4 linked regions of the Homo sapiens genome follow. The protein of the gene in region 1 purifies or fractionates together with the protein of each later gene. This does not show direct contact. Each region holds a gene or a part of one and is shown on either strand. Other genes may lie near its edges.

Region 1 (3,500 bases):
CCCCTGGGGAGCTTAAATTTGTGATCTGTGGTCTCAGGTCACAAATTTGTATGTATAGTTCTTGGTATTTATTGTAAAAGGGAATTTAGAAGAAAATGATTGTATTTAAAATGATTAGTAGTCAACAGAAATTGAATCATATTTTTGACTCTTGTTTTAGGTGCATTGATGCTCTGCATAGCTGAGATATTCGCTTACTCTAGATTACCATTGTTTTCCATTTGAATCTTTTCTGTGCCTGAGATAGTATATATTTAGTTGGAGTCTTGTAGAGAATAAGACATTAGTCCTATCACTGGTTTCCAAACATGTTGAAGTTGTGGATTCCCAGCCCTACTTACGAATAGGAGATTAAATTGGAAGTAGAGAAATGGTAGCTAAACATCTGTCTGATCATATCTTCTTTCAAAACAACTTCTAGAAATGACTCATTGAATGAACTACGGACTTCCTTAGAACTTAATATTAAAGTGGTTAGATTCGTTGGCCTTAATTTTGGCTAACTGGATTCCGTGGATCAATTTCTTCTTACCTTCATCTTGAAATCTGAAATTCTGACTATAAAACTTTTTATATTTCTGTTTGGTTTTAAGAATAAATATAGAAAACATTTGCAGATAAACATAATTTAACTCTATCATAAAATAGAAACAAATCAACATTGGTAAAGAATGACCCACCCATAAGATTGGCAAGTGATTACGAGCCTGTACCTTTAGAAAATTATGAAACTGAAGATAGTTTATATTTTATTTTTAATGCAAAAGCAAAAGTAAGCTTCTCATTTTTGATTGAAAGCAGTCAATAAAGTTTGAAATGAGTAAGTCCTAAAATAGGATATATATGCATTATTAGAATTATGGTGATAACCACCAGAAGAACCATATGTAGAAATGTTAGGTTGAACTATATGGAATTACCAGTTTTGTAGGTCCAAAACACACAGTCAAATATTAGCAATTTCATGGTTTTACCTAGTTAAAGTGTTGATATTTGAGACTTGGGCATAGGGTTGGGTGTATGATAGGAGACTTATTTACATTTGGTTATCTGCTACATTAATTGAATGTTTTAAAGAATGTTTACATCTTTTTAAAGATGCAGACATGTATTACTTCTATTAACCAGACAGATTAGCCATGCTCTCTACCCCTATCCCCCACCAGGCAAAGTAAAATGGGGTTAACTTTAGATCTTGATCAAAAGTTAGTTTAGTTAGGCCATATTGCCAGGAAATAATTTAATGAGAAGTGTCAGCCTGAGACTTTGGTGGTATTTTGTGCTTAATCTGACTTTGAATAAGTGGACCAAGATGTGTTCATTGATTGTCCGTAGTTTAGCCCTTTGCTAGATGTTATGGTGAATTTACAAAACAGTAGTAATAATATTAGAATAAGTAAGTAAAATAACATGTAAGTAAAATAAAAATTAGAATAATTAAATAAAATAGTTGATACAAAGGATGGTTGATCACTTGTGTAGTTCAAGTCTTTAATAGGAAATGAGATTAGATTGATGTAGAACAATTTCATTGAGGAGAGGAGGTAAGAGTGGAACTATGAACAGAAGGATTTAGATAAACAGCAATCTTGGTGAGGCAAAAATTAAAAGTGTTGAGACTTGGAATTGTTTTTTTATATTTGGGGATCAGTGTTGAGTAAAAGTAGAAGAGATAAGCCTGGAAAAATAGAATAAGGTCAAATTGTGGCTGTATATACGAGTTAATGGTTTCTCAACCTTGGCGCTATTGGCATTTTGTGTTGGATAATTTTTTGTTGTGGAGGCTTGTCCTGTACCCAGTAGGATGTTTAGCAACAACAACCTTTTCCTCTACTAGATGCCAGTAGCATCTTTCCTACCTGCCCCAGCCTCACCTCCACCTCCACTTCCACTGTTGTGGCAACTATTGTTTCCAGACATTGCCAGTTGTCCTCTGGGGGAAAAAAATGTTCCCGTTTGAGTACCACTGGCTCATACAAACCAAGATGACATAGCTGGAACTAGAATCGGAAGTGGAGGATGAGTTGTGTTGACTGATTGGCTGTCTTCAAGACATATACGGTTTTGGTCAAACATAGCCCTGGGATAGCTGTAAATAACTAGTAGAATAGTGATTGATCTGTTATCTATTGTGTATATTTATAGTACTAACACTGTTGTACCAGATCAATGAACAGAATTAGATTGATGAAATTGATGAACAAATTTATATTGCATATATTGTATATTAGCATAAAACTAAATTAAATCATATTGATTTTGTTATGGGGAGAACATTGGATATAATGGTATTGATGGTTGATATTAATTAAATTAATTTTTATTTTATTATTTGATATTGTAAAGGGATTCTTGAAGGTTGGTGTTTTAAATTCTAATTTTAAAATTTATTTTATTTTTTTGTCTGGCCATTACCACTCAGAGGAGTTTTTAAAAATTCTGTAATGGTAAAAAATTTCTTAACTGTCTGTTAGTTGAAATAGCTGTTGCTTGGAGAGATTCTGATATATTGTATGTTTGAGAAAGGTTATCTTTTATTTAACCAAATGGGAAGTAGGATTTCAATTTTAAAGATATATTTTTTTCAAACGTAAGAAAGGTTTATTGTAGACTTGAAATTAACTCTTTCTGCCTAAGATAATTTCTCCAGTATATTTCTTTTTTTCCTTTCCTTTCTCTCTCTTTTTTTTTTTTTTTTGGAACATAGCACAGAGTCATTCTTTGATGACTAGGAAATTTTGTCTTTGCAGCCTATGGAAAAAATAGCCAAGGGCCTTGATTTTTCTCATTGTCATTATTACCCAGCTATGGTTGTAAATAAATATGGTTTATCTCCATTCCTCCAGTGCATATGTACAAAAAAGAAATAGTGACTAATTAGATGAAGAAGTTATTTTTCAGATATCAGAGAAAGATAAGATTTGATGTATTGCTGATCCCTATAGAAAGATAAAATTTGATATATTGCTGATCCCTGTAGTTGGAGTCTGACTAATGTACTATATTTGGAGAATGAGGGGTTGGGTAAGCTATTAGGAGTTGGTTTTGTGGAAAAATGTCCATTCTTCTAATAATAGTTAACAAACATAAAACATTAAAAATTTTTTAAAAAATTGCTTTCTATTCAGGCATGGTTATAAATCAAAAACAGAATCAAGGAGTCTCAATTTACCTCTCATTTGAAAAAATAATTAATTAATTGGCATTGGCAACTACCAAAACAAAATCACAAAAATCTCTGACATTTTGTAAAATTTACCAAGTAATAGCAAAGTTGGATTGGTCTCAATTTTGATCAGCTACCCACACTTCTGCCCCAGTTAATCTTACTTTTGCGTCTATCGTGAAGTTTTGATTGATAAAAAGCCTTCTAGAAGGTTGATCCAGAAGAAAAGTACCTTTTCTTTCATCTTCATCTCCTAGCTCTCTTAATTATGGCATTGCTTCCCTTCTAGAGCCTAAGGTGTTTCAGTTTTCTTTAGTCAGTGTGCATAAAAAAT
Region 2 (3,500 bases), on another chromosome or scaffold:
GGACTTAAAATGCGGCAAAAAAGAAAACATCTTAACAGTCAAAATGAATGAATAGGCCGGGTGCAGTGGTTCACGCCTGTAATCCTAGCACTTTGGGAGGCCGAGGTCGGTGGATCACGAGGTCAGGAGTTCGAGACCAGCGTGGCCAGCATGGTGAAACCCTGTCTCAACTAAAATACAAAAAAAAAAAAAATTAGCTGAGCGTGGCAGCGTGTGCCTGTAGTCCTAGCTACTTGGGAGGCTGAGGCAGAATTGCTTGAACCTGGGAGGCGGAGGTTGCAGTGAGATGAGATCGTGCCACTGCACTCCAGCCTGGCAACAGAGCGAGACTCCACCTCAAAAAAAAAAAAAAAAAAAGGGCCGGGCGCGGTGGCACACGCCTGTAATCCCAGCACTTTGGGAGGACGAGGCAGGTGGATCACGAGGTCATGAAATTGACACTATCCTGGCTAACACGGTAAAACCCCGTCTCTACTAAAAATACAAAAAATTAGCTGGGCATGGTGGCAGACACCTGTAGTCCCAGCTACTCGGGAGGCTGAGGCAGGAGAATGGCATGAACCCAGGAGGCAGAGCTTGCAGTGAGCCAAGACTGCGCCACTGCACTCCAGCCTGGGCGACAGAGCCAGACTACGTCTCAAAAAAAAAAAATGACTATCACCTACCTACAGGAAAAGCTCAAATGCCTTAGTATGAAAAACAAAAACCTTCACAATCTAGGCCGGGCGCAGTGGCTCACGCCTGTAATCCCAGCACTTTGGGAGGCTGAGGCAGGTGGGTTACCTGAGGTCAGGAGTTCAGGACCAAGCTGGCTAACCTGGTGAAACCCCATCTCCACTAAAAATACAAAAATTAGCTGAGCACGGTGGCGGGCGCCTGTAATACCAGCTACTCAGGAGGCTGAGGCAGGAGAATCACTTGAACAGGGGAGGTGGAGGTTGCAGTGAGCTGAGATCACGCCACTGTACTCCAGCCTGGGCGACAAAGCGAGACTCCGTATCAAAAAAAAAATGAATAAGAGAAGTTGGTATCTTTTCTAAAGCATAAATGTGTTCTACTTAGACGTTTAAATGACTATCACCTACCTACAGGAAAAGCTCAAATGCCTTGGTATGAAAAACAAAACCTTTCACAACCTTAGTACAATCTACTACTCTAAAGTCATCTTGGCAGGGCGTGGTGGCTCACGCCTGTAATCCCAGCACTTTGGGAGGCCAAGGTACGTGGATCACCTGAGGTCAGGAGTTTGAGACCAGCCTGGCCAACATGGGGAAACCTCCTCTCTAATAAAAATAAAAAAATTAGCTGGACGTGGTGGCAGGCACCTGTAATCCCAGCTACTCGCGAGGCTGAAGCAGGGGAATCACTTGAACATGGGAGGTGGAGGTTGCAGTGAGCCAAGATCACACCACTGCACTCCAGCCTGGGCAACAGAGCGAGACTGTCACAAAAAAAAAAAAAAAAAAAAAAGAAGTCATCTCCCACCACCTGTTCCAAGCAACCATGTCACCATCCTTTTCTGCCAGTCTATCTCTGTGCACTGTTCTTGGCCTATGTGCCCATACCACTTTCTGTTAAACCGCAATTCATCTTTCAAATTGGAAGGGTCATTCATCTCAGTAGAGCCTTTCCCAGTGTCCCAGGCAGTAGTCTCCCCCTTTAAGCTGCTGCCCAATCACAAAAGACCATACACATCTCCAGACACACCAAATAAAGGATGAGAGAATGGAATGAAAGGGATACAATGGCTGGGTGCAGTGGCTCACGCTTGTAATCCAGCACTTTGGGAGGCCAAGGCGGGCGGATCACGAGGTCAGGAGACTGAGACCATCCTGGCTAACACAGTGAAACCCCGCCTCTACTAAAAATACAAAAAAAATTGGCCGGGCATGGTGGTGGGTGCCTGTAGTCCCAGCTACTCGGGAGGCTGAGGCAGGAGAATGGCGTGAACCTGGGAGGCGGAGCTTGCAGTGAGCCGAGACCACGCCACTGCACCCTGGCCTGGGTGACAGAGCGAGACTCCGTCTCAAAAAAGAAAGAAGAAAGGGGTACAGAAGTGGATATAGCGAATGGGAGGGGAAAAGAAAGTCTATATCCATTCATAAAGTTCACTGCTGGCCAGGCACGGTGGCTCACACCTGTAATCCCAGCACTTTGGGAGGCCAAGGCAAACGTATCACCTGAGGTCAGGAGTTCGAGACCAGCTTGACCAACATGGTGAAACCCCGTCTCTGGTAAAAATACAAAATTAGCCTGGCGTGGTGGCGCATGCCTGTAATCCTAGATACTTGAGAGACTGAGGCAGGAGAATCGCTTGAACCCAGGAGGTGGAGGCTGCAGTGAGTCAAGATCCCACCATTGCACTCTAGTCTGGTGACATGGCAAGACTCCGTCTCAAGAAAAAAAAAAAGTTCACTGTTGACCCTTAGCAACACAGCAGTTCCAATTCCGTACCAAATCAATATCCCCTTTCAGAAATACTACTCTGTAAAGGTATCCAGAAATAGCAATGGCAAAGTGGTATTGACAAGAATGTAACCTAGAGACCTTGTATACCTTACCTCCTTCTTCCTTGACTTCTTCACTAGGCTCTCCTGAAAAAGGCTCCTTTAGGGTAAGATGATCACATCTGTCTTCTTGGGTAACTGGCCCAGGCCTGAGTGTCATTTTTTTCCCTCTCTTTGAGCCAGTAGCGTGGAGTTTTCCTTTACCAATGTGTATATTAAGGGGGTGAAAAGACTCCAAGGAAGGTAGGGTGATTCCCTGAGAGATGGCCACATCAACACCTTCTAGAATTGGTACATTTGTGTTCTGGGTGAGCATTCCAGAGCTCAGAGATGTATCCTCCATACCAAGCTGATTTCCTGCATCCTGCAAAGACTGTACTTCGAAGCCAGCTACTCTGCCATGACTTGGATCCCAGGATAGTGACACCGAACTCAAGTCCTTAACCTGGTCAGATTCTGGTTTAACGGCTGATTCTAGGTCTACGTTGTTTTCCTCTTGATTGCCTTTATGCTGTAGGGACTCTGTCACTGTAGTTCTTCTCTTCTTACAGGGCAACATTTTAAAAGTCCCACTTTTGTTCCATTCTGAAAGAATAAAAAGTTCTTACTGCCTTCATATTAATTAAAAGTAATAACATTTACTCAATTATCTTTTCATTTATTCATGTTCGATCATGAACACAATACTTCACACCAAATGCACAATTTCCCTTTAGGTGGAAGTTGAGAGACAGTGGTTAAGTGACTGAGTTCAAATCTCAACTCTACTGATTACTACTGATGGACTACTGTTACCTAGGCCAAGTGATTTAACCTCGCAAGTCTTCAGTACCCTCAACAGTAAAAAATAATTGCTCTTACTTCATAGAATTGTTACAATTAAAGAGTAAGTGATTAATAAACACTGTGGGTTTATTTTTGTGTTTTTTTGTTTTTGTTTTTGTTTTTGAGACAGAGTCTCACTCTGTCTCCCAGGCTGGAGTACAGTGGCGC
Region 3 (3,500 bases), on another chromosome or scaffold:
CTGAAATAAGAGTTCACAAGCATCTAAAGAAAAGATCAGTGTTCCCATATGAAAAGAACTGGTATGATAGAAATACCACCAGGGACACCTAATCTAGAGGTTAGGGAAGGCTTCCTGGAGGAAGTGGTTTTAAAGCTGAGATAAGGCTTAATATGGTGGCTTGTGCCTATAATCCCAGTACTTCGGGAGGCCAAGGCAGGAGGATTGCTTGAGTCCAAGAGTTTGATACCAGCCTTGGGCAACATAGCAAGACCCTGTCTCTACAAAACATAAAAAAGATAGTTGAACGTGGTGGCACACACCTGTAGTCTCTGCACCTCAGGAGACTGAGGTGGGAGGATCACTTGACCCAGGGAGGTTGAGGCTGTAGTAAGCTGTGGTTTCACTGGTGTACTCTAGCCTGGGTAACAGAGTGAGAACCTGTCTCTAAAAAAGTAAATACATAAAAATTTATTTTAATTATTATGTTTTAAAAAGGGGTCAGTGGGCCTGGGCGCAGTGGCTCACACCTGTAATCCCAGCACTTTGGGGGGCCGAGGTGGGCAGATCACCCGAGGTCAGGAGTTTGAGACCAGCCTGCCCAACATGGCAAAACCCCGTCTCTACTAAAAATACAAAAAATTAGCCAGGTGTGGTGGCAGGCGCCTGTAATCCCAGCTACTTGGGAGGCTGAGACAGGAGAATCGCTTGAACCCGGGAGGCGGAGGTTGCAGTGAGCCGAGATCACGCATCTGCACTCCAGCCTGGGCAACAAGAGAGAAACTCCGTCTCAAAAAATAAAAATAAATAAAAATAAAAAGGGGTCAGTGAAGAGACATTTAAGCAGAAAGACATGCTAAGCTTTGTGTTTTGGAAAATTCAGTCTAATTACAGCATGTCACTAGATACCAGGATAGGGCCACTGAGTGAGGATGGGGAAAAACAGGTCAGGGAGACCAGTAAAGAGGCTGTTCAATTATCCAGGTGATATAAGAATGAGAATTCGGGCAGTAGCAGTAAGGAAGATGAGAAGGAAAAAGATTTGAGACACAGTAAGTTTCCATATCCCCACTCATGCTCCGTTCCTGGTAAAATGGTGAAAAAGAAAGTGTGTGTGTGTGCGTGTGTGTGTGTGTGTGTGTGTGTGATCACGCGCACATATGACATTGTAGGGGTTGAGTTGTCTGGAAAACAGTGCTTAGAAGATATGAATTGAAAGCTCATAAAGAGCTATTTGGAGTTCTCTTAAGCAAACTGGGAAGTAAAGTAACTAATGAGAAAATCTCTCAAGTCACTTCTCATCTGGAGGCGAGATAGCACAGTGCACCACCCTGAGAGTTGGGAGAGATCTTCCTTTGTCCCGGATCTGCATTGTCTATTGTTTTGACCCTTGTTTTATCATTTAACCTCTCTGAACTTTGTTTATTTGTCCAACTTAATACAAGGATGATGAAGCTTGCCCAGCCCATTCTGAGTTGATCTTAAGCTCAGCATGTACTGGGGTGTGACCCAAACAGGGAAGTTGACATCCTCTCTACTAAAGTTAATAGAATGAGAATGTTCAGGGTCATTGTTCAGTCCCAGCAGTCTGGTGTTCAGTGTGGACGTTGGCCTGTTGGCTCACACCAGGCAGAGGGGGTGAGTAGTCGTTCACGCTGCTTTGCGGCAGGGACGTGGGGTTTCAGAATGGGTTAGGGTGATACTAGGTTATTTCAAAGATGATCCCTTCCAACTCTGAGACTGGGTCCTGTGTCACAGGCCTTAGTGAGAGTTAGATGAGATCATGGCTACAAAAGCACTTGGAGAACAAACATTCTAGACAAGTAAAGGTATTATTATCAGTAGACCATGTGACATTAGCTCATAGTTTTTAAATGTTTAACTTTCTTGCATATCCCCGTGAGGCGGAAAATAACTTCCAAGTTCCTACATGCTGGTAGATGATTTCGTTTCATTTCATAAAGAGACCAAACCTTTCCTCATACCATCTTAACTGCATTTTGCTTTTCTTATTTTATTTCATATGTTTAACAATGACTGGAAACATTTGACCTGCCAAGACTTGAATTTGGGCATCTGGGGTTTCTCCCACTGTCCATGATAGCATCACCAGCAAGTGGAGCACAGGCTGTACATTCCCCGTGTGAGCTTTCGGAGTGAGGAATGTTCTCCACCTCCTGGAAAAAACAGGGCCCAACTCACAGGAGTTAAAAGGAAACTGATTTTAGAACCCTCTTACAGTACTGTGACTTTTCACTCATCAGTGTTGGGAACTGGTTCTCTTTCTCTTAAAAGAACCCCCTGGGGCTTTAAGCTTAAACGATGACAGTGACTCAGAGTGGCTCATGCTTATTGCACCTTGACGCTGTGCCAAGTGCTGTTTTAGCCCTTTACGTGTAAGATACACCACAGCCTGTGAGTAAGCATTTGCTTTGTAGATTAGGAAACCAAGGAACATGCAGTAAATAACTGGCCTAGAGTCACACAGTTAAGCTGGAAGTTGGACCTTGGCATGTGACTCCAAAGCCCTGCCTGAAGCGCTGCTCCTCCCCTCCTTGCAAGCAGAGACCTGCCACACAGAGCCCACAGAGGTCTGAAGAAGGCAGGATTTCCTGTTCGTAGCTCAGGAGAGCAGACAGTGGTGTTAAGCAGGAAAAGCACATTAGAATTCCAGTTTACTTACAGTGCTCTCCACACCAGGAAGGAAATGCCCCAAATATGAACATGGCTTCCACTAAGATAAATGGCCCCAATCTAGGGGATTCCCATTTGCATCAGAAAAACTGTTAATATAGAGATCAGAGTTTTTACCTGCTACATCTTTCATATTTTCTTTCCTTAGGTTAAAAAGATCAAGTGGCATGAGCAGCCTTTTGGGGAAAATTGGTGCCAAGAAGCAGAAAATGAGCACCCTTGAGAAGTCCAAACTGGACTGGGAGAGCTTCAAGGAGGAAGAGGGGATTGGTGAAGAACTGGCCATCCATAATCGAGGGAAAGAGGGGTAAGAAGGAGTAGGTTTTATGCCTTGGAAAATCCTCAGAACCCTGAAATCAAATGATTTATTGGAGACAAACTGCCCACTGTAAGCAAGCAGGAGCTTTTCATGATGGAACTAAAAATGTGAGCACTTTGGTTTGTCAGTAAGTCTCTGTTCCAGTGTGGGGCAGGGCCTGTCACTGGGAAGGCCACTGCGGGTGGAGGGAAGGCGGGGCATGTGAGGAGTACTCTCAGGGGCCAGTCACATCTGCCAAGCTGAATTTGCTGAATTACAGCTCCAGTGAACTGTAAGTTGCCTAGTGGTTGGATCTGGCCTGTGGTAGCAGCCTTGGCCTTATCTGAATCATTTGTCCTTCTGAGAAACCAAACTAGTTCAGATCCGTCAAAAACTGAGCCAATGGAATGCCTAGATGTTGCATTATTGTGAATTTTTTTTTGTCTGTGTCATTATGGCCTGGGGTGGGGCTTTACCCTTGGCTATAGCCTGTGTGATAGGCCAGGCCCTCAGACAGCACCCCAGGCCA
Region 4 (3,500 bases), on another chromosome or scaffold:
AAATGAGGTCTTAGGAATGACAATGTGAATAAACAGTTTTAAAACAACAACGAAATGAAATCACCAAGAAGCGTGGCTTACTTTTACACTGGAATCCAGCACCAGCCCTTCATCATGAAAGGTTCTAAAAGACACCCTGTGTGATCGGGTCTCTGCTGGTTTTAAGGGAGTTGTCTCTCGGCGAGGCCTCGCTATAGACTGCTGATGAGTTTGAAGACACCCTGTGCGGTCGGGTCTCCGCTGCGTTTAAGCGAGCTGTCCTCGCTGTCTCTCGGTGCTGATGAGTTTGCACTTGTGTGTTTCTTTCTTCTCTCAATCCAGGTCTGGTCTTTAGAGCAGCCCGAATGGCACTGCAAAATAGACGAGGGCTCAGCCGGGCTGGTGGCCTCGTGCTGGAGCCCGGACGGGCGCCACATTCTCAACACCACGGAATTCCATGTAAGTGTCAGCCCCAAGACACCTTACTGGCCATGTGATCCTGTCCTCTGCTCTCGAAACAGCTGGGGAGTGCGAGAGGGGGTGTGTTTGGAGTATGCTAGTCTCCCCTTATCCTCAGGGGATGCATTCTAAGACCACCAGGGGATTCAGATTGTACCAAACCCTGTATTTCCTGTGTTTTTTCCTATACAGCATACCTGTGATACATTTAATTTATAAATTAGATACAGTAAGAGATTAGCAACAATCATAGTATAGAACAAGGATAACAATATACTGTTTATAATTGCATGGATAGAAGATTTGGTCTTACTGAAGATCTGAGCAACAACCTCAGCATAGGATTTTTTCTTTCCTTGTTGCGTCAAGAACTTTCAGCTCGTCATTTAAAGGAAGCACTTTGTGGCTTCTCTTTGGCGTATCCAGATTGCGAGCCCCACCGCCCGTGCTTTGGGCTGCTACTGAGTCAGATAAGGGTGTCGTGAACACAGGCACTGTCTGCTGCCCTGGGTCTGATGACTGAGGTGGCTCCCGAGTGGCTGGTAGATTGGCGGGGTTGGAGGGAGCCGGGGAGCGTATATAGTGGTGTGTATATTTTAGGTCAGAGCATTATAAGCCACTAAGTATTATTGTCTGATCTTTTGTCCAGTTTTGAAGAAAAAACATTTTAAAAATCTTAATTTAGATTTTTTAGGATTTCGGCACTCCCTTTAATTCAACGATAGAAAATGCGCTGTGATATGAGCCGGCTCGCACCTTTCCTTCAGGAGCCTGGCCTGGGGGCGTGGCTCGGGGCGGTCGGCAGCCGCCCATTCACCTGCTGTAGGTACCGCACAACAGCCTCCGTGCTGAGCTCAGCGCGGAGGGGAATGTTGACATCCGAGAATAAATCAGAGGGATCTGGGATAGGAGACTGCATTTTAAGTTAAAATTAGGCATATGTCAAGTGTTTAGATACCAGGTCTTTGGTGTCCGCAGTGTCTTTTTAAGATACAGAAAAATGGACGAATTCCTTTAATAATGTGCTTTTCTGATGGAGTTGGATCCCAGTGTTTGGGCCCAAGTCCACTGAGTGCTCATAGCTGTCTGGGCTGCTGGCTGCACCTCGGTAACCCGCCCATCCCGCTGCGCCGCGCACACCACGGGGCAACCCGCCCATCCCGCTGCGCCGCGCACACCACGGGGCAACCCGCCCGTCCCGCTGCACGGCGCACACCACGGGGCAACCCGCCCGTCCCGCTGCGCCGCGCACACCACGGGGCAACCCGCCCGTCCCGCTGCGCCACGCACACCACGGGGCAACCCGCCCATCCCGCTGCGCCGCTCACACCACACTGCAGCCCTCCCGTCCCGCTGCGCCGCGCACACCACGTAGATGATGGCACCTGGGAGGATTTCTCCCAGCGTGTGGCTGCAGATGCTCTGTAGGGTTTCATTCGGCTTTTTTCAAGCTGGCATCGGCTGGGATAAAGTTTTATCCAGCCATGAGGGTTGCTGAATCAACTGCTTCAGATGGCTGGATGGCTTTACATATTTTTCAGTTTCGATTTTAAAAAATACTCCAAATCTAATGTCTGCTATTATGGGCTGTCAGAGAATAAGACAGGAAACAAAGGCCCACCAATGTCTCCGCACTATGTATTGACATTGGAAGGCACTTTCGGCCTGAGTGTTTCAGAGAGGATAATTTGAGCTTTTCACGCAGCCGTGTCTAACAGTCTTCAGGCCTGTAATGCTTTGGGCCCAAATCTGCCCTTGAGAAGGGCTCATGTCATGGGGTCAGCCTTGTTGTATTATCTTATTAAATGGCCCAGAAGGAAAACTACCATCTATAGAGTTTAGAAACCTTAAAAGATGGATAAAAGCCTGGTTTTGTTGAGCATCCCATGTCACACACACCAATATTGAAAACACCTTTGCTACAGAACAAACTGATTTTTCATAGAGTACATTTAGATGACATTGTTCAACCTAAGACTAAGGTCATGACCACTTTGCTGGTGGCCTTAGAGGAAACGTTAAGACCAGGTGGTGGATGAGGACCGGTAACCTCAAGGCATGGGGCATCTTGACCAAGATGTCAAAATGTGTCTCCAGCTTTGCATGCGAACTTTAATGGTTGCAAGTGAGGAAACAAAACCGGAATTCCAGACGTGCTGGCCAGGAAGTGAGCTGCGGGCACCGTCCATCAGTCTCATTCACAAGAGCAAGGACCAGACCCGTTCGAGGATTAGCGGGGCCACTAGGTCCCCTTCTGAAGGCGCGACCCCATGTCCGGGGCTCAGCGGGGCCACTGGATCCCCTTCCGAAGGCGCGACCCCATGTCCGGGGCTCAGCGGGGCCGCTGGGTCCCCTTCCGAAGGCGCGACCCCATGTCCGGGGCTCAGCGGGGCCGCTGGGTCCCCTTCCGAAGGCGCGACCCCATGTCCGGGGCTCAGCGGGGCCGCTGGGTCCCCTTCCGAAGGCGCGACCCCATGTCCGGGGCTCAGCGGGGCCGCTGGGTCCCCTTCCGAAGGCGCGACCCCATGTCCGGGGCTCAGCGGGGCCGCTGGGTCCCCTTCCGAAGGCGCGACCCCATGTCCGGGGCTCAGCGGGGCCGCTGGGTCCCCTTCCGAAGGCGCGACCCCATGTCCGGGGCTCAGCGGGGCCGCTGGGTCCCCTTCCGAAGGCGCGACCCCATGTCCGGGGCTCAGCGGGGCCGCTGGGTCCCCTTCCGAAGGCGCGACCCCATGTCCGGGGCTCAGCGGGGCCGCTGGGTCCCCTTCCGAAGGCGCGACCCCATGTCCGGGGCTCAGCGGGGCCGCTGGGTCCCCTTCCGAAGGCGCGACCCCATGTCCGGGGCTCAGCGGGGCCGCTGGGTCCCCTTCCGAAGGCGCGACCCCATGTCCGGGGCTCAGCGGGGCCGCTGGGTCCCCTTCCGAAGGCGCGACCCCATGTCCGGGGCTCAGCGGGGCCGCTGGGTCCCCTTCCGAAGGCGCGACCCCATGTCCGGGGCTCAGCGGGGCCGCTGGGTCCCCTTCCGAAGGCGCGACCCCATGTCCGGGGCTCAGCGGGGCCGCTGG

Evidence for each region.
Region 2: the proteins of PHF14 (region 1) and GON4L purify together in Homo sapiens (affinity purification with mass spectrometry, with the first as the bait; one large-scale study listed by BioGRID). This does not show direct contact.
Region 3: the proteins of PHF14 (region 1) and CFDP1 fractionate together in Homo sapiens (co-fractionation; one large-scale study listed by BioGRID). This does not show direct contact.
Region 4: the proteins of PHF14 (region 1) and WRAP73 purify together in Homo sapiens (co-immunoprecipitation; one study listed by IntAct). This does not show direct contact.

What each region holds. Positions count from the first base shown.
Region 1 is NC_000007.14:10,976,872-10,980,371, forward strand, and holds part of PHF14 (PHD finger protein 14), read left to right. Parts: intron 1-3,500. UniProt on the Homo sapiens protein: Histone-binding protein. Binds preferentially to unmodified histone H3 but can also bind to a lesser extent to histone H3 trimethylated at 'Lys-9' (H3K9me3) as well as to histone H3 monomethylated at 'Lys-27' (H3K27ac) and trimethylated at 'Lys-27' (H3K27me3).
Region 2 is NC_000001.11:155,850,715-155,854,214, forward strand, and holds part of GON4L (GON-4-like protein), read right to left. Parts: intron 3,093-3,500; 5' UTR 3,067-3,092; coding exon 2,562-3,066; intron 1-2,561. UniProt on the Homo sapiens protein: Has transcriptional repressor activity, probably as part of a complex with YY1, SIN3A and HDAC1. Required for B cell lymphopoiesis.
Region 3 is NC_000016.10:75,304,504-75,308,003, reverse strand, and holds part of CFDP1 (craniofacial development protein 1), read left to right. Parts: intron 1-2,821; coding exon 2,822-2,980; intron 2,981-3,500. UniProt on the Homo sapiens protein: May play a role during embryogenesis.
Region 4 is NC_000001.11:3,643,604-3,647,103, reverse strand, and holds part of WRAP73 (WD repeat-containing protein WRAP73), read left to right. Parts: intron 1-321; coding exon 322-438; intron 439-3,500.